Homo sapiens: one gene and its partners. The protein of the gene in region 5 interacts with the protein of the main gene of each other region in a biochemical or structural test. Each region holds a gene or a part of one and is shown on either strand. Other genes may lie near its edges. The genes, in order: TCF20, SIRT1, NFYA, SMARCAD1 and TOPBP1.

What was found.
Region 1: the proteins of TOPBP1 (region 5) and TCF20 form a complex in vitro, tested with the Homo sapiens proteins (one study listed by BioGRID).
Region 2: of the proteins of TOPBP1 (region 5) and SIRT1, one has a biochemical effect on the other in vitro, tested with the Homo sapiens proteins (one study listed by BioGRID).
Region 3: the proteins of TOPBP1 (region 5) and NFYA form a complex in vitro, tested with the Homo sapiens proteins (one study listed by BioGRID).
Region 4: the proteins of TOPBP1 (region 5) and SMARCAD1 form a complex in vitro, tested with the Homo sapiens proteins (one study listed by BioGRID).

The regions. Positions count from the first base shown.
Region 1 is NC_000022.11:42,203,844-42,209,779, forward strand, and holds part of TCF20 (transcription factor 20), read right to left. Parts: coding exon 5,808-5,936; intron 1-5,807. UniProt on the Homo sapiens protein: Transcriptional activator that binds to the regulatory region of MMP3 and thereby controls stromelysin expression. It stimulates the activity of various transcriptional activators such as JUN, SP1, PAX6 and ETS1, suggesting a function as a coactivator.
Region 2 is NC_000010.11:67,906,220-67,912,155, forward strand, and holds part of SIRT1 (NAD-dependent protein deacetylase sirtuin-1), read left to right. Parts: exon of another isoform or gene 1-35; coding exon of another isoform or gene 36-68; intron 69-570; coding exon 571-718; intron 719-1,826; coding exon 1,827-1,906; intron 1,907-3,036; coding exon 3,037-3,223; intron 3,224-5,936. UniProt on the Homo sapiens protein: NAD-dependent protein deacetylase that links transcriptional regulation directly to intracellular energetics and participates in the coordination of several separated cellular functions such as cell cycle, response to DNA damage, metabolism, apoptosis and autophagy.
Region 3 is NC_000006.12:41,074,639-41,080,574, reverse strand, and holds part of NFYA (nuclear transcription factor Y subunit alpha), read right to left. Parts: intron 5,309-5,936; exon of another isoform or gene 5,226-5,308; intron 5,099-5,225; exon of another isoform or gene 4,877-5,098; intron 1,547-4,876; 5' UTR 1,486-1,546; coding exon 1,411-1,485; intron 1-1,410. UniProt on the Homo sapiens protein: Component of the sequence-specific heterotrimeric transcription factor (NF-Y) which specifically recognizes a 5'-CCAAT-3' box motif found in the promoters of its target genes.
Region 4 is NC_000004.12:94,247,180-94,253,115, reverse strand, and holds part of SMARCAD1 (SWI/SNF-related matrix-associated actin-dependent regulator of chromatin subfamily A containing DEAD/H box 1), read right to left. Parts: exon of another isoform or gene 4,563-5,936; intron 3,463-4,562; coding exon 3,361-3,462; intron 2,455-3,360; exon of another isoform or gene 2,365-2,454; coding exon 2,283-2,364; intron 501-2,282; coding exon 109-500; intron 1-108. UniProt on the Homo sapiens protein: DNA helicase that possesses intrinsic ATP-dependent nucleosome-remodeling activity and is both required for DNA repair and heterochromatin organization.
Region 5 is NC_000003.12:133,598,976-133,604,615, reverse strand, and holds the end of TOPBP1 (DNA topoisomerase 2-binding protein 1), read left to right. Parts: intron 1-3,222; coding exon 3,223-3,366; 3' UTR 3,367-4,378; downstream 4,379-5,640. UniProt on the Homo sapiens protein: Scaffold protein that acts as a key protein-protein adapter in DNA replication and DNA repair. Composed of multiple BRCT domains, which specifically recognize and bind phosphorylated proteins, bringing proteins together into functional combinations.

The DNA of each region.
Region 1 (5,936 bases), on a different chromosome or scaffold from region 5:
GGGTGGGGGTGAGGTACTGGAGTTAGGAGCAGAGAACAGGAGTTGAAGGGAGCCTTCACCAGGATGGGGGCCTTGCCAGGCCCTGGAAATGACCACCTTCAAGGAACATATAGTTGAGAATTTAGAGAGCATGTAGACTGGTGGCTCTATTTTACAGTTAAACTAGAGAGCCTACCTTTCTGACTTGGCTGTTTTGATGTTTTAATATGTGATTTCATTTTCATAATGTAATCAATCTATTTTATATTTTCCAAATCATGTTTTCCATCACAATTTAAAGTAAATTTAAGAAAGATGTGAGTCTGTTAGATGGGGGAAGTAAATAATTATCCATTATTTAAACTTGTATTAAAAATAAGCCCCTAAACTGGCCAGGTGCAGTGGCTCACACCTATAATCCCAGTACTTTGGGAGGCCGAGGAGGGTGGATTCCTTAAGGTCAGGAGTTCAAGGCCAGCTTGGCCAACATCCTCAAATCCCGTCTCTACTAAAAATACAAAAATTAGCTGGGTGTGGTGGCACGCACCTGTAATTCCAGCTACTGGGGAGGCTGAGACAGGAGAATCACTTGAATACAGGAGGCGGAGGTTGCCGTGAGCCGAGATCATGCCACTGCACTCCAGCCTGGACAACAGAGTGAGACCCTGTCTCAAAAAATCAAGGAAAAAAAACCCTAAATATAATCTTTAATATATTGATTCAGAAATTTAAAGAAAATTGGCCAGGCACAGTGGCTCAGGCCTGTAATCCCAGCACTTTGGGTGGCTGAGGCAGGTGGATCACTTGAGATCAGGAGTTTGAGATCAGCCTGGCCAACATGGTGAAACCCTGTCTCTATTAAAAATACAAAAATTAGCCAGGTGTGGTGGTGCATGACTGCAGTCCCAGTTACTTGGGAGGCTGAGGCAGGAGAGTCACTTGAACCCACGAGGAGGTGGTTGCAGTGAGCCAAGATTGTGCCACTGCACTCCAGCCTGGCAACAGAGCAAGACTCATCTCAAAATAAAAATAAAAATAGAAAATAAAAATTAACCTAAAACCAGTTAACATATACTGTCAGGTAAAAAAAAAAGATTAAAAGTTTCCCAAGGGGGGTTGGAAAAATTTGGGAGGGGCACCTTCTATGAGAGGGGAACAAGCAAAGACTCCCCGACTCCCCCACTAGTAGGGCTATCCAGCCTCAAGGGATCCATGGCCACCAGATCTACCTTCTGTCACATCCCTGCACGCCTTGGCATTCCTTAATGTCTCAAAGGTGATTTGTACATACCAAGTTATATCCATACCCATTCAGAGGCAATTACCTCTGTAATATCATTCATGTCAGAGGTCATTGTGATTCTCATACACAATTATACCAAGGCAAACAGTGGTCAATGTTGGACAGAAGCAAAGGGGACTTGTGCTGAAATGAATAGATTCACAAGTCCCACACTTGTGGGAAGGGAAAAAGGAAGGGAAAAAGGAAGGGAAGTAAACACCATTTTTAAATATAGAAATGTTCTAGTTTTCGGCAATTTTCAGAGTAGTGTGACACAGGGAGAGGAGCAATGTCTCTTGAGGACTTCCCAATATTTTAATATAACATCGTGCTTGTCAAAACACCTGATAAATACATAGGCCAAAATGGATCTCTAATGAAATATATGTGACTTTATCTTACATGATAGGATTAAGGGCATGCTCATTAAGCAAGACCAAAACTGAATGCATCTATCTGCTAAAACCTAGTAAGATAAAACTAGACTCAAAGTATCCTGGACAATTGAAACATCATCTGTCAAATTAAATAAAAGGCAAGTTAGTGTAATTTTAATTTGTCCTTGAGTGCACTGAGAAAAGTAGAATAAAAGCTAGGTAAATAAAAGCTAGAAACGGATCTTATAGTGATAGTGGTACATCAGCTCAAAGAGACAACAAGCCTAACTTTTTTCTTATTTTTTTTAGAGATTGAATCCCACTCAGTCGCCCAGGCTAGAGTGCAGTGGCACCATCTTGGCTCACTGCAACCTCCGTCTCCTAGGCTCAAGCCATTCTCCTGCCTCAGCCTCCCGAGTAGCTGGGATTACAGGTGCCTGTCACCATGTCCAGCTAATTTTTGCATATTTTTAGTAGACACGGGGTTTGACCATGTTGGCCAGGCTGGTCTTGAACTCCTGACCTCAGGCGATCTGCCCACCTCGGCCTCCCAAAGTGCTGGGACTACAGGCGTGAGCCATCATGCTCGGCCCAAGACCTGAATTGAGACACAGGATCTAGAGATTTGCTGGGGAAGATTTAGCCTGATTACTGATTATCAATTATTGCTATAGAACACCTAAAAGTTTACACAAAAAAACTGGGCTGAGATATGTTAATAATAAATGTTGAAATAACGAAAACACTGTCAGATGGTCACATACACATATGCACATCAAAAAGCAATAAACAGGCTGGGCGCAGTGACCCACACCTGTAATCCCAACACTCTAGGAGGTCAAGGCAGATGGATGATCTGAGGTCAGGAGTTCCAGACCAGCCTGGCCAACATGGTGAAACCCCACAACAAAGTGAGATTCTGTCTCAAAAAACAAACAACAAAAAACCCACCAAATACTGTGACTTTCCAAGGAAAGTTGGGAAGCAAGAACTCAACTTTGACAAGAGGATGATTAACGGATTATTTTGAGCGCTCAAATTTGACTAAAGAATTTTGTACTTGAGGGTCTTAAATGTTACATCCTCCTAGGATCTTTGCATTTTAAAATGTCATTGTGTATAAACTTCTTAGGGGAAGTGAATCTTCTACCTCAAACTTGGAGTTTCACCGTGATGTTAATAATGGAGACAGGGAAGGAGGCACAAAGAAAAGACCGTAATTGGGAGATAGGGGACATGATAAGAGTAAAGGGCAAGCTCCTTGCATGACTGAATTAAAATGTTCTAATTTCAAATATATATTTCACATTCAATATAATTTTTACTATAGTCTATGGGCACTTCTTTTTGCCAGAAGGTTATAAATAATATGGTAGACTACTAAACATACAGTTGTACATCCATCTGATCCCTTCCCACGAAAAAGTGGATAAACTTGCAAGATAAACTCATGACACCATGAGCAATGGGAAGCTGGAAACATGAGAGATGAAGTGAGTGACAGTGATTCTGTGCACTGCAAGGAAGCAGACAGTAATGATGAGTGCAGTGGAGGAGCCCCCAGAAAGCCAGCCACTTTAGGGCACAGAGCTTGGGGAGGCCTCAGTAAGTGGGGGTGCAACATGGGGCTGAAAAATAGAGCATTAGCCCAAAGTTTCTAAGAGGAGTTAGATCCTTAACCCAGTTCAACCAGGTAACTGTTCTCATCCACTGAAAACAGGCGGGAGATTGTCAAAGTCCGCGCACTGAATCATGAGCCCATATCCCCACCCACACAACCCTACCATCCTCTTCTCCACTTGGCTTTTAGGACGCTGGCAGCCAAGCTTGCATCTCTAGACAGGAAATCTCAAGATTTTTCTCTGGAACAAAAAAAAAAATGTTTTTTTTTCCTCTGGGAAAACTCAACTCAGAAAAAAGACCCATATGCTGGCTGGCTGCCTTATTATTCTACGGAGAGGACTACAGGCTAGCAAGCCTGGCCCATACTGTAACAGAGAGCTTCAAGTCATTTTTTAAAACATCTCTTTCTCTCTTAAAAATATAAATCAAGGCTGGGTGCAGTGGCTCAAGCCTGTAATCCCAGCACTTTGGGAGGCCGAGGTGGGCGGATCACCTGAGGTCAGGAGCTCGAGACCAGACTGACCAACGTGGAGAAACCTCATGTCTTCTAAAAATACAAAATTAGCTGTGCATGGTGGCGCATGCCTCTAATCCCAGCTACTCAGGAGGCTGAGGCAAGAGAATCGCTTGAACCTGGGAAGCGGAGGTTGCGGTGAGCTGAGATTGCGCCATTGCACTCCAGCCTGGGCAACAAGAGCGAAACCCCATCTCAATAAAGAAAAAAAAATCAAGACATCTGAAGAACCTCTAACAAGAAAGAGAAAATAGGAAACAGACAAAGATTTTTAAAAATTATAGTACAGGCCAAGTGTAGTGGCTCACGCCTGTAATTCCAGCACTTTGGAAGGCTGACGTGGGAGGATTGCTTAAGCTCAGGTGGTGAGACCAGCCTGCCTGGGCAACAAAGTGAGATGCTGTCTCTACAAAAAGTAAAAAACTTAGCCAGGTGTACTGGCATGCACCTGTGGTCCAGCTACTTGGGAGGATCCCTTGAGCCCAGTGGTTGGAGGCTGCAGTGAGCCATCATCACATCACTGCACTCCAGCCTGGGTAAGGGCATGAAACTGAAACAAAAACAAAAACAAAAAATACGTTATAATGTATTCAAAAAGCAAGAGAAACGATTATAGCCATCAACTAGGCTCTGATTATTCTTTAAAAGTCAGTACATTCAGAGAAAAAAAAAGCTCTTCAAAATATCAAGAAAAAAAATAAGTAAATAAAAGGCTAGAAGGCTGGGCACTGTGGCTTGTGGCACATGCCTATAATCCTGGTACTTTAGAAGACCGAAGTGGAAGGATTGCTTGAGTCCAGCAGTTTGAGACCACTCTGGGCAACACAGTGAGACCTTGTTTCTGCAAAAAATATAAATATTAGCTGGGCATGGTGGCACACACCTTTAGTCCCAGGTACCAGGGAGCCCCAGAGTTCGAGAATGCAGTAAGCTGTGATCGCACCACTGCATTCCAGCCTGAGTGACAACAAAACAAAACAAAACAAAACAAAACCAAAACAAAACCCACATACAAAAAAGATTAGATGATAAAGCTGAAGAAAGCATAGAGAAATCAGAACAAAAAGATAATGAGATAAAACATAAAACAGAGGAGAAAAGATAAAAACAGCGGATCAATCCAGGAGGTAAAATGCCTTATATTAACAGGAATTATAAAGAGAGCAGAGAAAATAGAGGGAAGGAAATTTTCAAAGAACTACCACATGACAAATTGCCTGAACTGAAAGACATCAGCGTACATAAGATCTCATAGAGTAGCCAACACAACCATGAAATGACCTAGTCAAGACCTATCATTTTGACATCTCAAGACCCTAGGGAAAAGGAGAAGATCCTCAAACTTTCCAGAAGAAAAACAGAACATGCATCAAGGGATGAAAAATTAGAATGGCAGTCTTCTCAACTGCAGCACTGGAAGCTAGTGGACAAACCAGGAAGAACGACTGCAAGACAGTGAGAGAAAAATCACTTCCAATCTAGAATTCCACACCTAGCCAACTCTCAATTAAGCATGAGGCTAGGATAAAGTCATGCTCAGATATATAGGATCTCAACATTTTTACACTCCCACACACCCTTTCTCACAAAACTACTAAAGGATGATGCACGCCCTTAAATGAAGGCTCACTTTAAGAATGAGGAAGAAATGGGATTCAGGAAACAGAACATTCAATAGAGGAGAGAAAGAAATGAAGATGATGATGTTGATGATCTGCCCCAGGATAAGTTATGAAACAGATCCAAAGAATAAATATCCTAACTGGAAAGTGTGCGTTAGAAAAGATGTGGCCCAAGAAACTTGAAATATAATAATATGCTTCATAAGCATTATACATTTCAAAAAATGAAAAACGATTTTAGAAGTCTATACAAATCTTCCAAATTACCTATTTCATTTTCTGTCCATCACATGGGCATAGGCACTTTAATTTGGAGGAATAATCATGTGACATGTAAGAACAAAAACATGCAAGAAAAGGAACCAAATGAAATAAAAATCCCAAGCTGGTAAGAGATTTCTCATACTCACCATCTCTCTGGCTATTTCCAGCGCTTCCTGCAGGCCATAGAGCCTGCCACAAACCAGGTAGATTCCATTGGCCCAGAGAATACAACCCTCATGGACCCAAAATTCATTGCTGTCAAGAGGTAGTTCAGG
Region 2 (5,936 bases), on a different chromosome or scaffold from region 5:
CTCAGCATTCATGAGCAACTCTATACTATACCAGTATGTGCCTGTGCAGTGGAAGGAAAACAATTTTGGTAAGGATTAAAACTTTAGCTTTAAACTTCCAGCAGGTTGATATTCTAATGAATGATAAATCAAAAAAAAATTTTAAATATTCTTGTATTGACAGTGCTTTTTTTTTTAAATCACCCTACCTTGATATCTGTAATTTTAGTTTAAACTTTCCCATTTTTCTTTAAAGAAAAAAATCTGAATTTGCAGCCAACAAAAATTAGATATCCTAAGGTTGTATTACTTCTGACTTTTATTAAAATATCAACATTTCTTAGAGATGTTTATGGGCCGACTTTGTCTTTTTCTTCAAGGGGCCAAGTTCACTAATTGCTGAGTTTTATGCATATGACAGCAACCGTCCTTTTGTAGGTGTGTGTCGCATCCATCTAGATACTTTAAAATGCTCATCTATTTCATTTTTAAAATTATGTGTGTGGGATTATCAGTATTTTTTTGTTAAACATATGACATCTGTAGTTTATTTCACTAATGTAAATTTTTTCTACCATTTGCTTGATACAGGAAATATATCCTGGACAATTCCAGCCATCTCTCTGTCACAAATTCATAGCCTTGTCAGATAAGGAAGGAAAACTACTTCGCAACTATACCCAGAACATAGACACGCTGGAACAGGTTGCGGGAATCCAAAGGATAATTCAGTGTCATGGTTAGTAAACTTCAGAGTGGTTTTCTGTAATTTATTTTAGTTTTATAGGAAGATATTTCCTATAAAGCTGACTGCCATCGAGAAGTGGAGATAAAGCATTATTTAATCATGTTATCTCATTTATCGATAACCTCAGAAAAGTAGAAAACAAAAATAATAAAAACAGAAGTATTGGCCTTGACAGTTAATTATAGAAAACCTCAGATATTAATTTGCTTTTGATTTCAAAAGATGCTGCAGTTGCATGCATTCAATTATTTTAAATAATCTTTTCTGGCTGAGTGCAGTGGCTCACGCCTGTAATCCTAGCACTTTGGGAAGCCGAGGCGGGCAGATCCCATGAAGCCAAGAGTTCGAGAACAGCTTGGCCAACATGGTGAAATCCCAACTCTACTAGAAATACTAAAATTAGCCGGGCATGGTGGCAGGCGCCTGTAATCCCAGCTACTCAGGAGGCTGAGGCACGAGAATCACTTGAACCTGGGAGTTGGAGGTTGCAGCGAGCCAAGATTGCACCATTGCGCTCCAGCCTGGGAGACAGTGAGACTCTGTCAAAAAAAAAAAAAAAAAAGAAAAAGAAATTCTGAATACAAGAGTAGTATTAGCTGTTAATGAAGAAATGTGACATCTTTAGTTTATGAAACTAAAAGAACTGGATAGTTGAGATGTACAGGATTCAGAGATTCAGAAATGTTTAAAACAAGTATCAACAGGCCATTAGGTATCTAAAGTGTTTCTAAGAACTGCCGAGCTAAGGTAATAGAGTTGGAACTGTCCAACTCTGCAGGATTTTAGCCCTGGAGGAGTGAGCTGTTACAGTTTTGTTGAAAAGAGTAGCTTTAGAAGGCATCATTATATTAGTGTCTCAGAGATTGAGAATCATATTCATTCTATGTATAAATATATAAATTCTTCATCCCCTAGATTCTCCTGTAGTATATCACAAAATCTGCAGTGTGTTCTGAGGTTTAAAATCAAAGTTAAAAACAAAAACAAAAATCCTTAAACCCTCTTAACATTTGTGATGTTAAACTTTATAACGTTTGTGGTGTGTTCAAGAAACAGAAATACTTCTTTAATAAAGCATATATATGTTGTTTGTTTTTAGGTTCCTTTGCAACAGCATCTTGCCTGATTTGTAAATACAAAGTTGACTGTGAAGCTGTACGAGGAGATATTTTTAATCAGGTAATTTGTTGCCCATATTTTAGGAATTGTTCATGTCTCTGAAGTATTTCTTCTTTTGCCTCAAAATCCTTTTTTACCCCTTTAAAGTATATATGGTACAGAAAGATTCAGGAAGAAAATAGTTAGCATTTGGGAATTTTGGTAAAATACACGAGAACCTTTCAATACCTTATATAGAAAACAGCCCTATAAAGGCTCTTCAAATTATGAAATTGGCTTCTTAGTATCTAAGCCGAACATAAAATGTCAGATCATAAGCAAGTTGTTGTTGTAGTAGTTTTTCTCCTTCCTCTCCCTTTTTGTGCCTGTCAGATTTGGACCTTAAATTAGTTATGGTAATCTAAAATTATTTCATACATGTTCATTGCCAAAAAATATAGGAAAATTTGGCAGAAAATAAAAATTATCCAGAAATATGTCCTGTGTGCTTAGCAATATATGGAGGTAATCATGTCATTACGAAAGAGGAAGAATAGTATATTAAAATGGAGTCATTGGTCGGGTGCAGTGGCTCATGCTTGTAATCCCAGCACTTTGGGAGGACGAGGTGGGTCGATCATTTGAGGTCAGAAGTGAGACCAGCCTGGCCAACATGGCAAAACCCCGTCTCTCTTAAAAATACAAAAATTAGCCTGGCATGGTGGCATATGCCTTTAATCTCAGCTGCTTGGGAGGCTGAGGCAGGAGAATTATTTGAACTCGGGAGGTGGAGGTTGTAGTGAGCTGAGATCATGCCACTTCACTCCAGGCTGGGCAACAGAACAAGACTCCATCTCAAATAAATAAAATGGAATCATTTTATTTGACAAATGTCTATTTTTTTTTGAAAGGATCAATTCCCATTTAGTGTATATACACACATTATGTTTTTCCTCTTAATATATGATGGACTCTTCAATGTCAAGTGTTTTTCTACATAGATATTATAACAAGAGCATAGTATTTCATTGTTTCATAGTATGTTAATAAACTACCCATCATTGACAGTTGCTGTTTATCCATAGCTTTTCTGTTTTGTTTTTTTTTTAATAATTCTGAAATGTATTCTTAGAGGTATGGAAATGTTGACTATTTCTAACTTGGGCTTACTCTTTGCTTCTCTACCTCAACCAAAATCTGAAAATATGTAGGTAGTTCCTCGATGTCCTAGGTGCCCAGCTGATGAACCGCTTGCTATCATGAAACCAGAGATTGTGTTTTTTGGTGAAAATTTACCAGAACAGTTTCATAGAGCCATGAAGTATGACAAAGATGAAGTTGACCTCCTCATTGTTATTGGGTCTTCCCTCAAAGTAAGACCAGTAGCACTAATTCCAAGTAAGTTGGTGATGGTTTTTGGAGAACATTTCTATATATAATGTCATGGGTTGTGGGTCTGTATAATAGACGCTAGTAATCTTAACTCTGCTTCTGTTTGAAAGAGTGGTGAAGAGCTAATTTTAGAAATTGTTTGTTTGTTTGTTTATTGAGATGGAGTTTCCCTCTTGTTGCCCAGGCTGGAGTGCAGTCGCATATCTTGGCTCACTGCAACCTCCGCCTCCCGGGTTCAAGCGATTCTTCTGCCTCAGCCTTCTGAGTAGCTGGGATCACAGGCGTCCACCAACATGCCTGGCTAGTTTTTGTATTTTTAGTATAGACCGGGTTTCACCATGTTGGCCAGGCTGGTCTCGAACTCCTCAGCTCAGGTGATCCGCCTGTCTCTGCCTTCTAAAGTGCTGGGATTACAGGCATGAGCCCCCATGCCTGGCCAGAAATTCTTTATTTTTAGTAGAGATGAGGTCTTGTTGTGTTGCCCAGGCTGGATTCGAACTCCTGGGCTCAAGTGATCCTCCTGCCTCAGCCCCTTGAGTAGCTAGGATTACAGGCACGAGCCTCCACATCTGGCTGAACTGTTTTTTTAGGTGGCATTGTTCATTGAGACTGGTGAATCTGACATTTTGATGGGGGGTGGAGGGTTGTCAAAACGCAAGTAATGTTGGTGGCTCGTGCCTGTAATCTCAGCACTTTGGGAGGCCGAGGTAGGTGGATCGCTTGAGGGCAGCAGTTTGAGACCAGCCTGGCCAACATGGTGAAACCCTGTCTCTACTAAAAATACAAAAATTAGCTGGGCATAGTGGTGTGCACATGTAGTCCCAGCTACTTGGGAGGTTGGGGCATGAGAATCGCTTGAACTCAGGAGGCAGAGGTTGCAATGAGCCGAGAATGTGCCACTGCACTCCAGCCTGGGTGACAGAGTGGGACTCTGTCTCAAAAAATCAAAAACAAACCCAGAAGTAATGCTAAACTCTACTTCTAATTTATGTGAAAAATTAAGACAAAGGTAGAGTTCAACTTAGACTTTTTGGTGGAATGTGTTTTTAATGTTGCAAGGGTTAGCATCAATTAATTTATGAAATGGTCCTTTATCCTTATATTTTTTGATTACAGTTTTGATCTTTCAAATTTAATTGATTTCACATTTAATAAATTCAAATGTATAGTTTGGTAGAAGTGTAACATACCATGTAAGATGGAATTTGGGGGCTCAGAATGATTGGTTCATTCTTGTAGTAACAGCCATGCCATAACGGTGATATGTCGATATAGTTTACCCAAAAGGGTGTGTATATAAAAGTGTTCACATAAAATTTAAATCCTTATTACTCTCAGGAAAATTTCTTTGTCATATATATTCTCATACTGTCTGTTTCCTCCTCTAGTTTAGAATCAGAGGAGGAGAGAGAGAGATTTCAGTTGCATCAGATGTGTCCTTTCATAAGTGAGGGAAAGAGGAGAGGAAAAATATTAAATCCCTAGCCAGAGAATTGAATTAGACCCCACATCAGCAGTCAAGGCAGCCAGAGTAAACAGTTGGAAGAAACATGGAGTCAAGCTCTTCAATTTTGTGTCTATCCCATATCTCGTGGCTTTAGCAGTTAACTCAGTCTTACCTAATTAGCTGTGAAATTCTGTTAAAGTAGAATACAAGACAATTTGCAATTAAATGAAACATGAAAATTTAATATACAAATCTCTTTGTTCTTGAGTTGCTCTTCTTAAAGCAAAATCAAAGGCACTCTGCTTAAAAGCTTTTCTTTTTATTTTTTAGAGACGGGTGTCTTGCTGTAGCTCAGGCTAGAGTGCAGTGGTGCAGTTTCAGCTCACTGCAGCCTTCAACTCCTGGGGACAAGCAGTCCTTCCACTTCAGCTTCCTGAGTAGTTAGGACCAGAGGCGCACACCATGCTTGGCAAATTTTTAAATTTTTTTTTGTAGAAACGGGATTCACTTTGTTGCCCAGGCTGGTCACAAACTCCTGGCCTCAAGTGATCCTTCCTCCTCTGCCTCTCAAAGCATTAGGATTACAGGCATGAGCTACCATGCCTGGTCCTTAAAAACTTTTCTTTCAAAAGCTTTCTGTGGGATAGTATGATGTGTTGCAAAGATAATTAAAAAAAGAAACAGGTTTATAATAGCGTAGAATATGTTTATATGACTTTTTCCCTCCCCCCCTCCCCTCCCTCCCTCCCTTCCGTTTGTCCTTCCTTCCATTCATCCTTCCTTCTGTTAGTCCTTCCTTCTGTCCATCCTTCCCGTCCGTTCTTCCTTCCTTCCTTCGTCCATCCTTCTGTCTGTCCTTCCTTCCGTTCATCTGTCCGTCCTTCCTTCCTCCCACCCTCCCTCCCTCCCTCCTATCCTCCCTCCCTCCCTCATTGCCCAGGCTGGAGTGCAATGGCATGATCTCGGCTCACTGCAGTCTCCCGTGTTCAAGCAGTTCTCCTCCCAAGTAGTTGGGATTAGAGGCATGCGCTACCACACGCCCGGCTAATTTTGTGTTTTTAGTAGAGATGGGGTTTCACCATGTTGGTCGGGTTGGTCTTGAACTCCTGACCTCAGGTGATCCGCCTGCCTCGGCCTCCCAAAGTGCTGGGATTACAGGCGTGAGCCACTGTACCCAGCTCACCTTCTTTATATCAGGAGCTACTTAAGTAGAACATTTATGTACCAAGAACTCTTCTGTGCACTTGACTAACTCATTTAATCCTCACCACA
Region 3 (5,936 bases), on a different chromosome or scaffold from region 5:
TAACACAAAGATTTGTAATGCAATCTTTCCCTCCAGAAACAGGAATCTGACACTTCTACTTACACAATTGTTTAATGCCCTTTTTATCTCCTCAGATGAGTTCACAAGAAAAAAATGATTAGGTTTTAATAGCCCTGAAACTACCATAAAAAATTCTGGGCTTAAATGCAATCACCAAGAAAGGAGGAGTAATTAATCACTATGAACCGAAATCATCTTCATGACGTCAATGCTCTCATGTCCCAAAACTAAGATTCTTTTTTTTTTAAACTTTATTTATGTACTTATTTTGAGATGGGGTCTTGCTGTTTTGCCCAGGCTGGTCTTGAATTCCTGGGCTTAAGCCAACCTTCCTGTCTCAGCCTCCAGAGTAGCTGGGATTACAGGCATGCAGCACCATGCCCAGCTTCAAAACTAAGATTATTTCTACCCAACTGGACTGCTTTAAGAGCCATGTTTTCAATGATTCAACCTTATTTTTACATCCACTAATGGCAAATTCTGAAAGAATAAAAACCCACCCTCCAGGGCACTGGTGTGAATGGAGGGCCCTTTGTGGAATCCCTTCCTCTAAAAAGGCAGTTGAAGGAAACTGCCAGAGCCACAGCAGCTGTATGGAAGGGAAAGCTATCAGGGGAGTTCGTCTTTGATCATTAGACGGGAAAAACTCATCATCAATACTACCTTTCCCTTCCCTACTACTTTTCTATATTAGCTAAATTCCATTTTGAAAACAAAGTATTTCCAAAATATCAATCTTGGCCTAAGGTCAAATAGAAACATAATACATTTTTTTCTTCTGGGGTGGGGAAAAAAGTGAAATTTTACTATAATAAACCCAAGCATAAAGCATCAGAAAATGTAACCTGTGTATAAATTCAAGAAAGCAATCTATTAATTAGGAATAAACCAGCAGCAGGGAATTCCTTTCTAGTATGTCTTATCCATAAGAATGGCTGTCTAAATATTATCCTAATGTTAAACCAGAGCTTTTCTGAATAAAAAATGTGGCAGACCAAATCAAAAAACAGAAGATTTATTGGAAGCTATGTTGGTTTGTCTGTTGTGGCCAAAGACTTACTAAATCACAAGTTAGCTCAAACAAGAAGAGAAAAAGACCAAATAGAATCCAGAAAAATTTTAAAGTCCAAATTTCCATCTGAAAACCAGACTAGATGTTTTTACTTAAAATGAGATAAAAGAGGCAATTTACTATAACCAGGCACCCATGAAGAGTAGATTCTAAGTGGTCATGGGCTAGACATGGCATTTCAGCACAAGCCATCAGACCCAATATCTCACAAGATCTGGTATCTTTCAAATAATTCCCCAGGGCAATAGACCAACCAATTGAGTGGTGCTGTTATCAGTTTCATTGCTGTAATGTTTAAAGCAGTTTTGCTTCCATACCTGCTGCTGAATCTGTCCTGCCTGGACAACAATCTGCTCTGTCGAACTATTGCTGTTTGCTGTATACTGCTCCATGGTCCCTCCAAGTGAGATTCCTGTCCACTCTGGAGATCCTAGAAGGCTGTGAGGTACACTCCTGTTAGAAAGGTGGGGAAAGAAACTAAAGTGAGATTGTCAATAAAGGCCTTACCAGACAATTAACCTGGATAATTTATCACTGTACTTTATTTGCAAGAAAACAGGATAGGAGAATAGGAAATGCTTATATTCAGTATCATTTTTAACTGGGATTACATGGCACAATCATAACAACATAATGCTATTTTCACGTTTCTAAAATGCTTTCAGTATACTGGCAACCTTACCTTTCAATACTGTCAGAGCAATACTTGCACCTAAGAGATACTCGTTAAGCTACATCACTTTGATACAAGGCATACCTAACACTGATTTTCAGGTTTGCACATATACTTTAGAGAATAAAGCTTCTTTAAGTTGTAACACGTAATTGCTTCCCACCAAACATGTTACTCAGGTCCACTACATATGGTAGGCAAAATTTACCCTTCTCATAGACTTTAAGAGTTGAAGATCCACTTTTAAAAATAAGGATACAATTAGATAAACTGAATGATATCTGAGAACCTTTAATAAAGACTTCATTAAAAAATTAAAATGATATAAGTTAGCAATCGGCAATTCATCTTGGAAATATGGGAGGGAGGACAGATATATAAACAAAAATGTAGATAGGTCTTTCTCTCTGATTTTTCACTAGGCCCTCATAAATTCCAACATCTGAATAATAAAATGACGTGACCTAACTGAGCTGCTCATTATCGTGGCAAAGTACAGTACCACTCTCCATAAATCCACACATGCTGGTGGAATTAATCATTTGCAAGGTGTCTCAATACAGTGTGAAAGAAGAAACCAAAATATGTGCAACTATATGTCCAAGTACTTAGAAAGAAGTGTATTGATATCTAAAATTTACTTTGAAATGCATCAAAAAATGGATGAATGGGTGGAGAAATATCTGGTAAGGCAATTATAGTAAGATGTTAATAGACCCTAACTGGCAGGTATACAGGTGTTTATTTTCAAATTCCTTTGATTTCACTGCACACTTGAAAATTCTTATTTCTAGAATAAGAATTTTGAGAAATTCTTATTTCCCAAATGAATGTTGGAATGTTAGGAAAAATATAACAAAATTTAATCAAAATAAAAATTAATCAACCCCATTACTCATAACCAAAATGGATACAACATAAGAATCTATGAGCCATAAATAACAGGCTATGTCATCACAGCAAGAGGACTTGTGGCCATATGGTTCTCCAAAGCACTGCCCTTGATCTAATGGAATGCTCGCTAGGTAAATTTCTAGCTATAATTTGGATTTACATATAGATTGGCCAACAGGGAGCAAATATAATCAGCAACATGACAAACCGGTTTTCTGATTTTTACACCAGTCTCTTTGGAATTGGTTGACTAAGTCTGCTCCTCAGAGATTCTGGGTATAGAATAGAAAATCAGGTTTTCAGCCAGACTGTGAGTCTGTTAGGGGCACTAACAGGCTTCCCTAAATTCTATCTTGTCTCTAATACACAATACATTTATGGCTATAAACTAATAAAATTAAGGTTATGATGTAAACGAATATATATGATTCCATTTATATAAAATCTCCAAAAGACATCAGTAATCTAGAGACAGAAAATGGATCAGTGGTTCCTTGGGAGTGGAGAATACAGGGAGACAGGAAAGAGGGAGGTTGACTGGCATGGAGCCTTAGGAACATTGTAGGGTGATGAAAATGTTTTATATCTTCATTGTGGTAGCAGTTGCACAGGTGTACAAATTTGTCAAAACTCATCAAAATACACATTTAAAATTATTATACTTTGTTTCTAAAGTATCTCTCAATAAATTGATTTTAAAAAATAAGGATCATGAAAGGAATGTCTTTTAGGTTTCAACGCCTCCCCAACTCCAAATTTCCTTCTTATATGAGATTTTTTCCTTGACTAATATCCAGAAGTTTACATCTTTACAAGACTAAATATAACTTGAAGCACATAATGACTAATATATGTAACGTACAGATTTTCTTCTTAACTAGTTTATTCTGGTAATACAAATGAACCAATTTAGCAATATTTAAATTTATACTTTGAAGAGTATCAAGATTTGAAGAGCAGCTTCAAATCTAGCAGCAATTCTCTCTCACATTAATGACAGAGTGATTTAGCCTGTATCATGATATTGATACTGTTAATGGTTAATGCTATAAGCAACTGGCTTCAGTAAAGTCATATGTTCCTACTACTGTGAGCTTCAGTTAGCAAGACTGCAATACAATTCGATAGTCTTTCCCAAAGTGCCTCTTTGCCCAAGATTATGACAAACTAAGCCAGATTTAGTCTGTCTAGCTCTTGCTCTTAACACAAAGTTTTGAATGGTTTTTCCTCAAAGAGAGAGAAACAAATAATAAGTGTTTATTCTGGCTAGCATGAAAATTCTCTTCCTAGTGCATTCTCTTCTCAGTGCAATTCTCTTTGCCCCACTATTCCAAGGTGCAAAAGCTGAGACTTAGCCAACCACTTACTAGGAACCCATTCTATGTGGACCTACACAAACTCCAAAGCTAAAACCTCTTCAGAAACTCAACTAGTGTAAGCATATGAAAAGCCATAGGATTATCACAGTTGATAATCACTACCAGGCAAAGCCTAGAACAGTAGCTTTTTAACTTTTTTGACCACAACCCTTAGTAAGAAACACATTTCATTATCACAACTCAGTGCACACATGTATAAAGCATGTAACTGAAATGAAAGTTTCATGAAACAGCATTTACCTTTATACAACACAAGATGCACTTTGGTATTTTCTATTCTTTTTTTTCTTTTAAGAGAGGGGGTCTCCCTATGCTACCCAGGCTGGTCTCAAACTCCTGAGCTCAAAGGATTCTCCCACTTCGGCTTCCCAAAGTGCTGGGATTACAGTCGTGAGCCATCATCATGCCTGGCAGATATTTTCTATTCTATTATTTAAAAATTCCCAGCATTGGCTCACTCAATTTCTTTCACAACTCAACAAGTGGGTCCTGATAGACGCTTGATGAAAGACTAGACTACAACAAAGGGCTGTCCAGCTTCCCCATCATCCTACAGATTTCTGGATTGGAGCTTTCTAATGCACTTCTCTCCACTAATTATGTACCATGTGCCAGACACTGTTCTGAAGGTTTTAAAAATAAAAAGAAATCTCTGACGAAGATTCAAACTTCAAAGAGTCTTTAAGTTTAGTAATGGACTAAAAACCTATACTGGAATCCTAAGAGATAAAGTGATATGGGAATTTGGAGGACAGAGATTTGTTCCAGCTGGGGATAAATCAACAAGGCTTAAAAAAAAAAAGGTACTACTTGAACTTTTTTTTTCTTTGCTATCAGAGGCCTGCAGGATGAACTGGTCTTAAGTGTGAGAAAGATTTAGCTATGTGATGATGTGGAGGAAGGTGAAGTACTACAAATCAAGAGAGCATAAAAACAAGAACAGAAATATTTCAGCATGTGAACAGTGGACTAAACAGGAAAAAAAGCTTGGGGCCACACTACTTTCTCTCAAAATGTCAGACAAAGAAATTCTTCTGCAGACTGGTGGAAGCTTGTAAGGTATTTAGCAAAAAAGTTACCAGATTATAATGCCTTTTAGAAAGATGCCAAGCAAAAGTATTTAGTGATTTTGAAGTGACCAGAACATACCTATTTTTAAATACTAAGGTTAAAACATCTATTTCAGGTCAGGACGCAGTGGCTCATGCCTGTAATCCCAACGTTTTGGGAGAACAAGAAGGGAGGATGGCTTGAGCCCAGGAGTTCCAGGTTAGTGAGCTACGATTGCGCCACTGTACTCCAGCCTGGATGACAGAGGAAAGCCCTGTATCCAAAAACAAACAAAAAAACGTTCCAAAGGCAAATATACATGTTTTTTAGACTACTTAAGCTCTATCATCTCATCTGCTAATGCGGATAACGTGACAATCAAATGAATTAAGAAAATCACTTAAGCAACAATGAAAAACTCACCCTAAAAAGTGAAAATAAAACCTGTCCCCGAAGTTTTAGTAATGAAAGAGCACTGGAATACGAGTTTTCTGAAACCTATTAGTTGTATAACATTAAATGTGAATTTAGAAATGGGCACCAGATACTTAAGACCTTTATGTGCCAGGGAATGCACTAGATGATTCACATGAGTAAAAATAATTTTCAGAGTCCTAGGACAAGTCTCCTCTTCATCCCCAAAGAACTCAGCCACTATCACGGGGCAGAACCCATAAACAAGTCAGAAACTCGTTTTTTCAATCTTAGGAAAAAATATAGCTCTAGATCCCTTCTACTTGAACCTCCATACAAAATAATAACTGTTTCCAAAATATTCCTTAGCAAGATATACAAGTATTTTACCAACTGGGCTTTCCCCCCTAAACTATCACAACTACTGCCCACT
Region 4 (5,936 bases), on a different chromosome or scaffold from region 5:
AAGGCCACCCATCTATGCTTACCTGGGCTGAAGACAACTTGACTATAACCGGTACTGTGAATTAAATACACACACACATACAAGGGGAAAAAAAGAATAAAGCCTTACCAGAGCCTCCCAACTATTAAAGGGCCGGAGTTCTGTTATCTTCTGAGCCTTTTTCTGAGAACACTGAGGAATCAAAGTAAGTTCACCAATTGAAGCATCTTGAAGGAAGTGAAGAATTTTACCTTTATAGCCATCCTCCATCACTTCTTCACCACTACTATAGTCCTCATCTAGTGAACTACCGACATCAGAACCTGAATCATATTCAGAGTCTTCAACAACTCTCTTTGGATTAAAAACATTTTTTTTACGTTTCTTGTTAAAGCCATTTTGTGCTTTCATTGAAAATTTCTGTTTTAGTTTTGTTTTAGTTGCATTTTTAGGGTAATTTTGACTTCTTGAAGAAACTTCTTTTCCATTTGGAACCTCACTTTGTGATACATATTGCATATCTGTATATAAAAGACAAAAACAGTAACTAAATTAGAAATACATAAATATAAAGATAGACTTCAAATAAAAACTTAAAACATTTACCTATTCCTATTGAATACAGAAGAATTCAACGACAATTTATTGTTAAATTTGATACACTTTAAAAATACTTAAGTAGAATTTGAAGTTAAACAATTGTTTCAAAAGCAGGTGATAACTTGTTTTTAAAATGAATTAAATATAAATCTCTGTTTTCTAACAAAGGTCCTGAGAACACAAATGGCAGCTGCGTATCTGTATGATGTCTCAGATATTCCTAGCAGCCCCACTCAACTATGCCAACACTGAAGAATATAGCAGAATGATGCTTACACTACTATAAAGCTTACTAATAAAAAGTGTGTATGTTTCAACTATCCATAATTTTCCAATACTATCTTCAATATTCTAAGTTGCATCGTTACTTAAAAAATTATTCAAATAGGCTGGGCATGGTGGCTCACGCCTGTAATCCCAGCACTTTGGGAGGCCGACGCGGGCAGATCACAAGGTCAGGAGTTCGAGACCAGCCTGACCAACATGGTGAAACCCTGTCTCTACTAAAAATATAAAAATTAGCCAGGCATGGTGGTGCATGCCTGTAATCCCAGCTACTCAGAAGGCTGAGGCAGGAGAATCGCTTGAACCTGGGAGGTGGAGGTTGCAGTTAGCCGAGACTGTGCCACTGCACTCCAGCCTGGGCGACAGAGCAAGACTCCGTCTCAAAAAAAATAAAAAATAAAAAAAATTATTCAAATACAGTATTATCAAAAAGCCCCACTACTTTATCACTGATTATCAGTTTACAGAATTCTAAGATGCCTGTGAATGAAGGTAACACCATTATTTTATGTACCAGTGAGAAAACATGCACCAATCTATAATACAATACTTTATTCAGAAATTTTTACTTACTCAGAAAGCTATTAGACTTACACAGATTATCATACCTTTATTTTTGTGCATTTATAAAAAATAAGCAAAATGAATTGGCTAAAGTATTCCTCAAATGTTTTCACATTCATAACATGGCTCTTCTGACTCATTTTTCAAACTCATATTTGGTGGCTTTCTTTTTGCCACAGAATATCATTTTCTGTGCCATCAACAGTATTGGTAGTATAGCCTTTTAAAACAATTTATTAAAAACAAACAAACAAAAAAACCCAAACCAAAACACCAAAAGCTACCATGCTGGGTTTGCAATTATGAAGAGCTAGTCTACTTGATTCTTCCTTAGGTATGTTACTAAACATGTATGACTCAACTCTTCCTTACCACCTCTCCTCTATCATTTGGTTCCTAGAATTAAGAGTGTTCCAAAATGTGTTCATGCCTATGATACCCTTAAGTTTTTGATGCTAGTGCTTTTGATATCTGTGCAAGTATAGGCTAAGACATCTACATTACAGTAATGACATGATATCACCAATCACAAGATCCATCCTGACAGTTGTTAAAAAGGTTATTTTACACTCAATAAAACATGGCAATTTAAAAGTAGCCTTAACTATTAAGAAAGACTGAACAAATAGAAAAAGATATTTATTGTTTTGTTTTACACTATGATAAAGAACAGGCAGGTCAAAACATTTAAAAACTGGTTGTTAAAGAATGTTTTTACATCATTACTTTCAACATCTTTTGCAATCCCACCCTCTGATTAACAGCTAATAGCTTTTCTTATATACCATTTTCTTATATACTAAAATACAGACTATAATGAGAAGTATGTATTTTCTATGACCCAGAATAATTACCTTGGTCTTCTGCAAACACTTTTAGAGATTCTAAAGCTTCTGTGTACATCCATTCATGTTCCTTGAGTACTTCTCTAAGTTCCTAGAAATAAGTCATTTATCTTTTTGTTAAAAATCTCAAATTAGCAACTTGCAGAAAACGTCTATGCTCTTTTAAAAATAAGTTAATCACCTGAAAACAGAGAATTCACATCTGATTATTTTGCACTTGTTTTTACACTGCTTTACAAATGCTTTCTGTGTAATTTCACCTCCACAAATACACAATAGTCTTCAAAGGAAAGAAAACTTGACATTTTTTTGCATTTCTAATGCTCACTATGAAGTACTGTGAACACTAGAGGATCAAGAAATGTTTTCTCAATTAAAAATGAAATTTCAATATGCAGCTAGGCTTTTACAAACTGCTAACTTCAAAACGTAGTTTCAACAAAGGTAAAGAACCAATATTGCAACAAGATTTTGCATTCAGCTCATCAGAATTTAGTAGATGTACTATCTGAACATATATACTCAAATAAATCAGTGCAAGTGTAAATGTACTCTAAATGCTAAACAAATATGTGCTTCTATATATGATCATGGGATTAAACAGAGGGCCTTTTAGCAACAGGATGCGTGGCATGAGTCTTTTTTTTTAATGACTCTGAAAACATTCTCACTATCTGGGAAGTAGTAGAAAGCTTATAAAATATTAAGACACTGAAATGGAATACTTTTTAAATTCTTGTAAGAAATTTCAAGAATGAGAACATGAAAAAAACTAAGCAGTTACTTGATGGGGGCAGGGTTACAGATGACTTTCTAGATGACTTACATGTTATAAATGAGTTCACAATTTTTATTACGGTTATTTTTTAATGACTTAGGGATACAGTATAGATACTATAGTAAACAAGGTAAATAAACAACATAAATAAACAGTATGAAAATACTTTATAACATTGATAAAAGGAGAACATTTAATTAGAAGAATACAAAACTCACCCTAAGCTTTTATGTGGTTGAACTCTTAACACTATTTTATAATAAAAACACTTAGTACACACTGATTAAATTTTCATACACGACTACTCACCTGTTTATCAAAATTGGGAAATTCCTTTTGCAATTTCAGTACAATACTTTCCTGCTTTTCCCAATTACTGCTAGATTCTGCAGACTCATTTGATTCCTCTCCCTAATGGGGAGAAAAAAAAAAGAAAACAATTTAAGAGATATCAATAACAATGGTCTTAAGGCAATTATCATTGTATTTTGACTTGATCTGAAAATTATCATCATCAGTCAGAAGAATCCAAACTGTTTCTTTTTGTTTCTGTGAACATTGACATATTTATGTCTTTAAGGATGAAAAATATTGCTGACTTAAGATCACTGAAAGACCCTGATTGCATATCCGGTAACTCAAACTTTATTCTCAGTGCTTAAAATGAGATAAATCTCCTAAAAAACTAGAATGATCCTCAAATTAACTCAATATAATTCAAGTATACTGATGCCTTCTCCAAGACAACGGTAAATTTTAAAAGGATACAAATATCTCATCTATGTTCACTATTATATATCCACCTATAAATTTCAAATTCTGAGAAGAGTTTACTTTTACTTCACTCTTGATTCACAGAATGGCTTAAATATTAATTGTTCAGTCACAACATAAAACTGAAACAATGATAAAAGGAATTTAAGTGGAACTAAATAATGTATAAACCGAACAGATTAATTAATATGAGAATTGTGGCTATACATAGTCTCACTTTTCCTTCTTCTCTGTCACTTAACTTCACTTGAAGAAACTGGTTAAAGTCCACATTTAAGCAAAAAGAAAAGACTCCTTGTGTTCATGCATAGGAAAAATTTTAGTCAATCAAAAAGCATTTTTCTACTCTGCTTAGAACTGCACCACATGCTATACACACAAGATGGAGAAAAATACAATCTTCTTCTTCAACCTCCTTTATTATCCAACAACTGAATTGCTATTTTTCTCTTTCAGTACCTTAGATAGAAATAACTAAATTCTGATACCTCCTCTGCACAATGGAGTAAAATAAAATTTCATAAAACAGAGACCAATAAAATGCTATGGATATCTGGACTAAAGAAGAAAATTGCATGTGTTTCATAATACTAAGTGGTCTACTTGGGCTCAAATGCAGAGAATGTTAATAGGTTACAAGGATGAAGAATTAAACCAGAGCTAACATGGAATAAAGCCTAAGGTTAGTCTTTTTTAAGAAGCAACAGGATTTTGAGCAGGGGAATAATAAGACATACTGGTGAAACCCATCTGGAGAAACCATTTCAAAATCTTCAAAATTCATACTGCCACCTTTACAGCCCAGGCACACTGAAATTCCAAGAACAGTATTTTAAAGCTCACAGATGGACAACAACCAGCTGAGGAGGGAACAGATCCAAGTATCTAACTCTAGACCACTGCTTTTTCACTACATAAGTGAAAACTAAACTTCAGTTGTTCATTTGTTAATATATCAAATGTGCGTCATGGACAAATTGTGGTAAACACATAAAATGGAATATCACTAAGTCATAAAAAAGAATGAAGTACTGATACACACCACAACATGAATGAACATTGTAGTATATCTGAAAGCATTATGCTATGTAAGAGGCTAATAAAAAAGAACAAAATCATGTTCTTCGCAGCAACACAGATGTAGCTGGAAACCATTTCCTAAGCAAGCTAATGTGGAATCAGAAAAATCAAATACCACATTTCCCACTTATAAATGGGAGCTAAACATTGGGTACACGTGTTCATAAAAATGAGAACAACAGACACTGGGGAACACAAGAAGGCGGAGGGAGGATGTGGGGGAAGAGTTAAGGAAAACTACCTATGGAGTACTATCCTTACTATCTGGGTGACAGATTCATTCATACTTCAAACTTCAGCATCACGCAATATACGTTTGTAACAAACTTGCACATGTACCCCAATTCTAACATAAAGTTGAAAAAAGAAAAAACAAATAAAACACATTTTTCTGAAATTAAAAAATAAGAGGCTAGACATAAAAGGTTACATATTATATAATTCCACCTAAATGAAATGTTCAGAATAGGTAAATCCAGAGACTGAAGGCAGATTGGCGGTTGCCAGGGGTTAGGGGGAGGAGGGAATGGGGAGAAACTGCTTAATGGGTATAGCATGCTATTACGAGGTGATGACAGCGTTTGGAACTAGACAGGAATGATGGTATACAACACTGTGAATGTACTAAATAGCATTAAATAGTTCACTCTAAAATGGTTAATTTTATGCTATGTGAATTTCACCTCAATAAAAAAATACATAAAATATCTGGAAAACAGTAAACAGCTCTTCGGAATCAAATATTTAGTAGATGGTGTGCCTATCATGTGTTGTTTGCTCTTGGGTCCCACACTTATGCCAGCTCTGCTTATCCCTGGTGACTGAATATACTCATGTGGTCCAGGAGGTTACACAGACACTTTACAAAAGCTAGCTGATAAAATTTGGGACTGTATCTGTCTCAGCGGGCCCAAGGGATATGATTCGACCCAGTGCTTATTTTTCCATCTCCAGAATCATAGTTGGAACAGACATATTTGGCACTGGCAGAAATCCCATACTATATCAGTTCCCTGACCCATGATGTATGG
Region 5 (5,640 bases):
TTTTGTAACGAATTTTCTTTACTAGATACAGCGCTTTTCCTATTTTCTGTTTCATTTTATGTCAGTTTTTAATAACTGGTGTTTTTCAAATAATATATCCATTTCATCTTATCAAATTTGTTGGCATAAAGTTCTTCATAATATTCTTATTATCCTTTTAGTGTAATAAGTTTATTCCTGGCTGGGCACGGTAGCACACGCCTGTAATCTCAACAGTTTAGGAGGCTGAGGTGGGCAGATCACTTGAGGTCAGGGGTTCGAGACCAGCCTGGCCAACATAGCGAAACCCTGTCTCTACTAAAAATACAAAAAAATTAGCGGGGTGTGGTGGCGTGTGCCTGTAGTCCCAGCCACTCGGGAGGCTGAGGCAGGAGAATCGCTTGAACCTGGGAGGCAGAGGTTGCAGTGAGACGAGATCACGCCACTGCACTCCAGCTTGGGCAACAGAGCAAGACTCCGTTTCAAAATAAATAAATAAATAAATAAATAAATAAGTTTATTCCTGATATTGTCAACTTGTGTTCATTTATAACTGGCTTATTTAGGAGTCTGTTGTTTAGTTCCTAAATATAAGAGGATTTTTTTTTCTATCTTTTTAATTTGTGATTGCCCATTGAATTCCATTGTAATCACAGAAAATACTCTATAATTTTAATTCTTTTAAAGTTATTGAGACTTGTTTTATCACCCAGCTTCATCTATCTTAATGAACATATCATATATGTGAAAGATTTTATATTCTGCAGCTGTTGGGTGTTGTGTTCTAAAAATATCAAATAGGTTAATATGGTTGATAATGTTGATCAGATTTTCTGTGTATGTGGGTTTTTTTGTTTGTTTAGTTATATCAATTACTGATACTAAAATCTCCAGCTGTTTGTGGAATTGTCTGTTTTTTCTCTTTAATTTTGTCAGCTTTTACCCCATTTATTTCAAACTTTGTTGCTAGTTGTTTACCCATATATAATTTCTTTGATTTTCACATATTGATCCTTTGTTATAACACGTATCTCTGGGCTTACTCCGCCTTGAATGTACATTATCTGAGGTTAATATAGCCTTTTCCTGTTTACTCTGTGTCATGATATCTCTTTGCATGGTTTTTAATTTTAAACTTGTCTGTGTCATATATTTAAAATGGCTTTCTTGTAGATAGGATATAGTTGGGCCTTGCTTTTTTTTTCTTTGGAGTGTTTAGTCCATCATGTAATTATTGATATGATTGGATTTAGGGATGGGGTTTTTTGCTGTTTGTTTTCTATTTGTTCTTTGTCCTTGTTCTTCTTTGTCTTTCTTGGCTTTTTTTGTATTAGTTTAATATTTTTAGAATTTTATTTTATCCATTGGCCTTCTAAAGCAAAAATATATTTACCTTTTGGAGGGAGAAGTGTTTATATGTAGATTACAAATTACTTCCTGAGGCCGGGCATGGTGGCTCACGCCTGTAATCCCAGCACTTTGGGAGGCCAAGGTGGGCAGATCACCTGAGGTCAGGATTTCGAGACCAGCCTGGCCAATATGGTGAAACCGTGTCTCTACTAAAAATACAAAAATTAGCTGGGTGTCGTGGCGCACACCTGTAATCCCAGCTGCTTGGGAGGCTGAGGCAGGAGAATCACTTGAACCTGTGAGGCGGAGGCTGCAGTGAGCCAAGATCGTGCCTCTGCACTCCAGCCTAGGTGACAAGAGCGAAACTCTGTCTCAAAAAAAAAAAAAAAAAAAATGAAAAAAGGTAGATCTCTTGCATCCAAGTTGGTTCATTTGCTTCCCCTGTCCTTTATACCAGGGGTCAGTAAACTATAGCCACCTGGCCAAACCTGGCCCACTGCCTATTTTATAAATAAAGGTTTGTTGGAAAACAGCCATACTCATTCATTTATGTATTTTCTATGGCTGCTTTTGCACTATAATGGCAGAGTTAAGTAGTTTCAGCACAAATCATCTATCCCACAAAATCTAAAATGTTTCTGTCTGAGCCTTTACAGAAAGTGTGCTGACCTCTGCTTTATGCAGTAGTTGTCATATATTTTACATCTACATCTTATAGCCCCAAATAAGATTTTACTTTAAATAGGTTTTGCTTTTAACAATTCTGTGCATTTTGAGGAAACTAAAATAAAAAATGGTATTTTATAATTACCCTCATGTATACCAGTTTGAGTGTCAGTTTTCCCTGAAGATCTGAGTTTCCATCTGATAACATTTTCCTTCAGCCTGAAGAACTAACTTTAGTTTGGAGTGCAGGTTGATTGGGGATCAATTCTAGCTTTCTGTTGTATGAAATGTCTATTCTACCTTCATTGTTGAAGGACAGTTTTGCAGGATACAGAATTATAGATTGACAGGTTTTTTTCTTCTATTAAAGACTTCACTGTCTGCTGGCCTCCATTGTTTCTGTTGAGAAATCAGTGATGGTCATTTGAATTGTTCCCTTGTATTCAATGTGTCATTTTTGAGACCAGCCACCAGCCTGGGCAACACAGCAAGACCCTTATCTCCCCCTAAAAAAGAAACTCTAGGTTCTATTGTTCCTTTGCTCCTCCAAAGAGTACTGTGTTGTTTAACAGGCAGTTTACTTCATACACTGTGTTTGCGTCCCCAGCCCCCCATTTGCTTGGTTCGTTTATTCTCCAGGCTCTATGGTTGCTTTTAATATATTTTGGTCAGAATTTGTAGCTGTTATCCATGGAAGAATTGAATCAAAAGGCACTTACTTGGTATTTTGTGGTGATTCATTTTCAGGTTGCCCAGTCTGCCATATTGCTAGAAAATTAAGTTTTATTACACTTATAATAAGGAGGAAAAGATCCATTTCTATGTTGGGAAATGGTTGTGGGGGGAAAATGCAAGGGTTTTGGAGTCAGATCAGTTATGAAATTTGGCTTTGCTACCTGCTAGTTATGTGACATTGGTTGTTTTCATTTAACCTTTTTTATTTTATCTCAAAAATGGGGATTAAAAACACCGATATGAAATGTTTGTAAGATCTGAGCTAGTCCCACTCTACCTGAACCATACACGTATTTCTTTGATAAAAGGTGAGACTTTGTCCCACAGGGTCCATTTTGTTTAATTTGCTGGAACCTAGGAATGAATATGCGTTTTCCTTTAAGTTTGTCAGATTCATCCCTGAGAGGTCTGAGATTTAAAGAAAAAATCTATTACCAGATCACGTAAATGTTTGAAATCATTTTAAAAAATCACTTATTTTTCCTTTTATAGGAATCACCTCCTCATGTAGAAAATTACTGTCTACCAGAAGCTATTTCATTTATTCAGAATAATAAGGAACTTGGGACTGGATTATCACAAAAGAGGAAAGCTCCTACAGAAAAAAATAAAATCAAACGACCTAGAGTACACTAATCGCATCTACCCTTTAGTTACCAAACATTAAATGTTTTTAAAAATTGAAAGCCTGAATGTGACTGTGATAGATTTGGGTAGTAATTTAAAGATGAGTACCTGAAGAATTCTGCTTCAGAGTATAATGATGACCCTTCTTGAGTTTTGAACACCTGAAATTGTAATCACTGAAATATTAACTGTTTCTTAATAAAAAGTTACCTGAAATAACAACAAAATACAACTCCTCAGCTAGCTTGCTGTTAAACCACATTGAAGTCTGTTAAAAGATATTTATTTTTCTTGTAAATATCTGAAGCTGTAGCTTAGTGGAAATTTTAGCAAGGTAATGGATTTTGCTTTAAAATGTCTGCCTTACAAATTCATAACAACAAGATTTGTCAGTCAGCATTTATTCATGTTTTCCCTGATTTTTATCTTCTCACCATTTTACCTCTTTTAACAGGAGCCTGAGCACAAGGTTTAATGAGGAAGCTGGGGCTATAAATATGTGTGTATATATGTATATGTATGTTTGTACAAATCTCCATGATGTTTGCCAAGTTTGAATGCGCAAAACTTGGAAAATGTGACAATAAAGAATAAAAGTAGTAACTCAAATTAGTATTAAGATGTGTTTACATAGATAAATTTTTTAAAAGAGCACCCTGGCATCTGTTCTTCTGTTGAAGCAACAAAACATTTATGTAACGTAAAAAATGAATTGCAGGGGCCTGGGTGCGGTGGCTCGTGCCTGTAATCCCAGCACTTTGGGAGGCTGAGGCAGGCGGATCGTCTGAGGTCGGGAGTTTGAGACCAGCCTGACCAACATGGAGAAACCTCATCTGTACTAAAAATACAAAAAATTAGCCCAGTGTGGTGGCACATGCCTGTAATCCCAGCTACTCAGGAGGCTGAGGCAGGAGAATCGCTTGAACCCGGGAGGCGGAGGTTGCGGTGAGCTGAGATCGCGCCATTGCACTCCAGCCTGGGCAACAAGAGCGAAACTCCATCTCAAAAAAAAAAAAAAAAAGAATTGCAGGCCAGGCACGGTGGCTCATGCTTGTAATCCCACCACTTTGGGAGGCCAAGGTGGGTGGACTGCTTGAACCCAGAAGTTCAAGACCAGCCTGGACAACATGGCGAAACCCCATCTCTGCAAAAAATAGCAAAAAATTAGCCGGGCATGCTGTTTGATGCTTGTAGTCCCAGCTACTTGGGAGGCTGAGGCATGAGAATTACTTGAACTCAGGAGGCAGAGGTTGCAGTGAGCTGAAATCATGCCACTGCAACTCCAGCCTGGGTGACAGAATGAGACCCTGTCTCAAAAAAAATAAATGAATTGCTTAACATTTCTGATATTTGTTATTTAGAATATTGCCCTATTAGATTAAAACATACTGTTATTGGAACTCTGTATTGCATTAGCCTTTATTATGCTAAACCTAAACACCTAATACTACATGCGTTACCAGAATTCTCTATAAATACACCTAATTTCATTTTAAGGACAAACTAGAATCCGTTAGGAATGTAATTTTGATGTAAACCGTTCAATTCCAAATGACTTTTTGAAAGGCAGATTCAAACAGTGAAGGAGAGAGTGCTCAACTTGGACACAAAATCCCTTAAATTTTCATCAGATTTTCTTCAAAATGGAGTTGAGGGTATCCCTGCTGCTAGAGGATTGGTCCTACAGGGTTTTCAGCTTTGAGCTAGTTCACAGCTTAGGACAATACAAATTCTACACAGAGAAATAGGTAGCATTATGATGTAAACTGTCCCCCTCCCACCAAACAAAAACCACATGGGCCTGTCTTTATCAGAGCTATTTTATTTTAGCTGAATCATTTTGTAGATTGTAGTACGTTTCCCTGAATTTTATTACTCAGAATCCTTTGAAATAGGCCAGGCACAGTGGCTCACACTTGTAATCCCAGCACTTTGGGAGGCCAAGGTGGGCAGATTACTTTAGGTCAGGAGTTCGAGACCAGCCTGGCCAACATGACGAAACTCCATCTCTACTAAAAATACCAAAATTAGCCAGGTGTGCCGGCACGTGCCTGTAATCCCAGCTACATGGGAGGCTGAGGCAGGAGAATCACTTGAACCAGGAGGTGGAGGTTGCAGTGAGCCGAGATCGCACCACTGCACTCTAGCCTGGGTGACAGAGTGAGACTCCATCTCAAAAAAAAAAAAAAAAAAAATTCTTTGAAATAGTTACTTTTTAAATTACCTAATATACCACTTTCTTTTCTGCCAAAATTATGAATGGTTTTCCAGTTCAAACTTAGA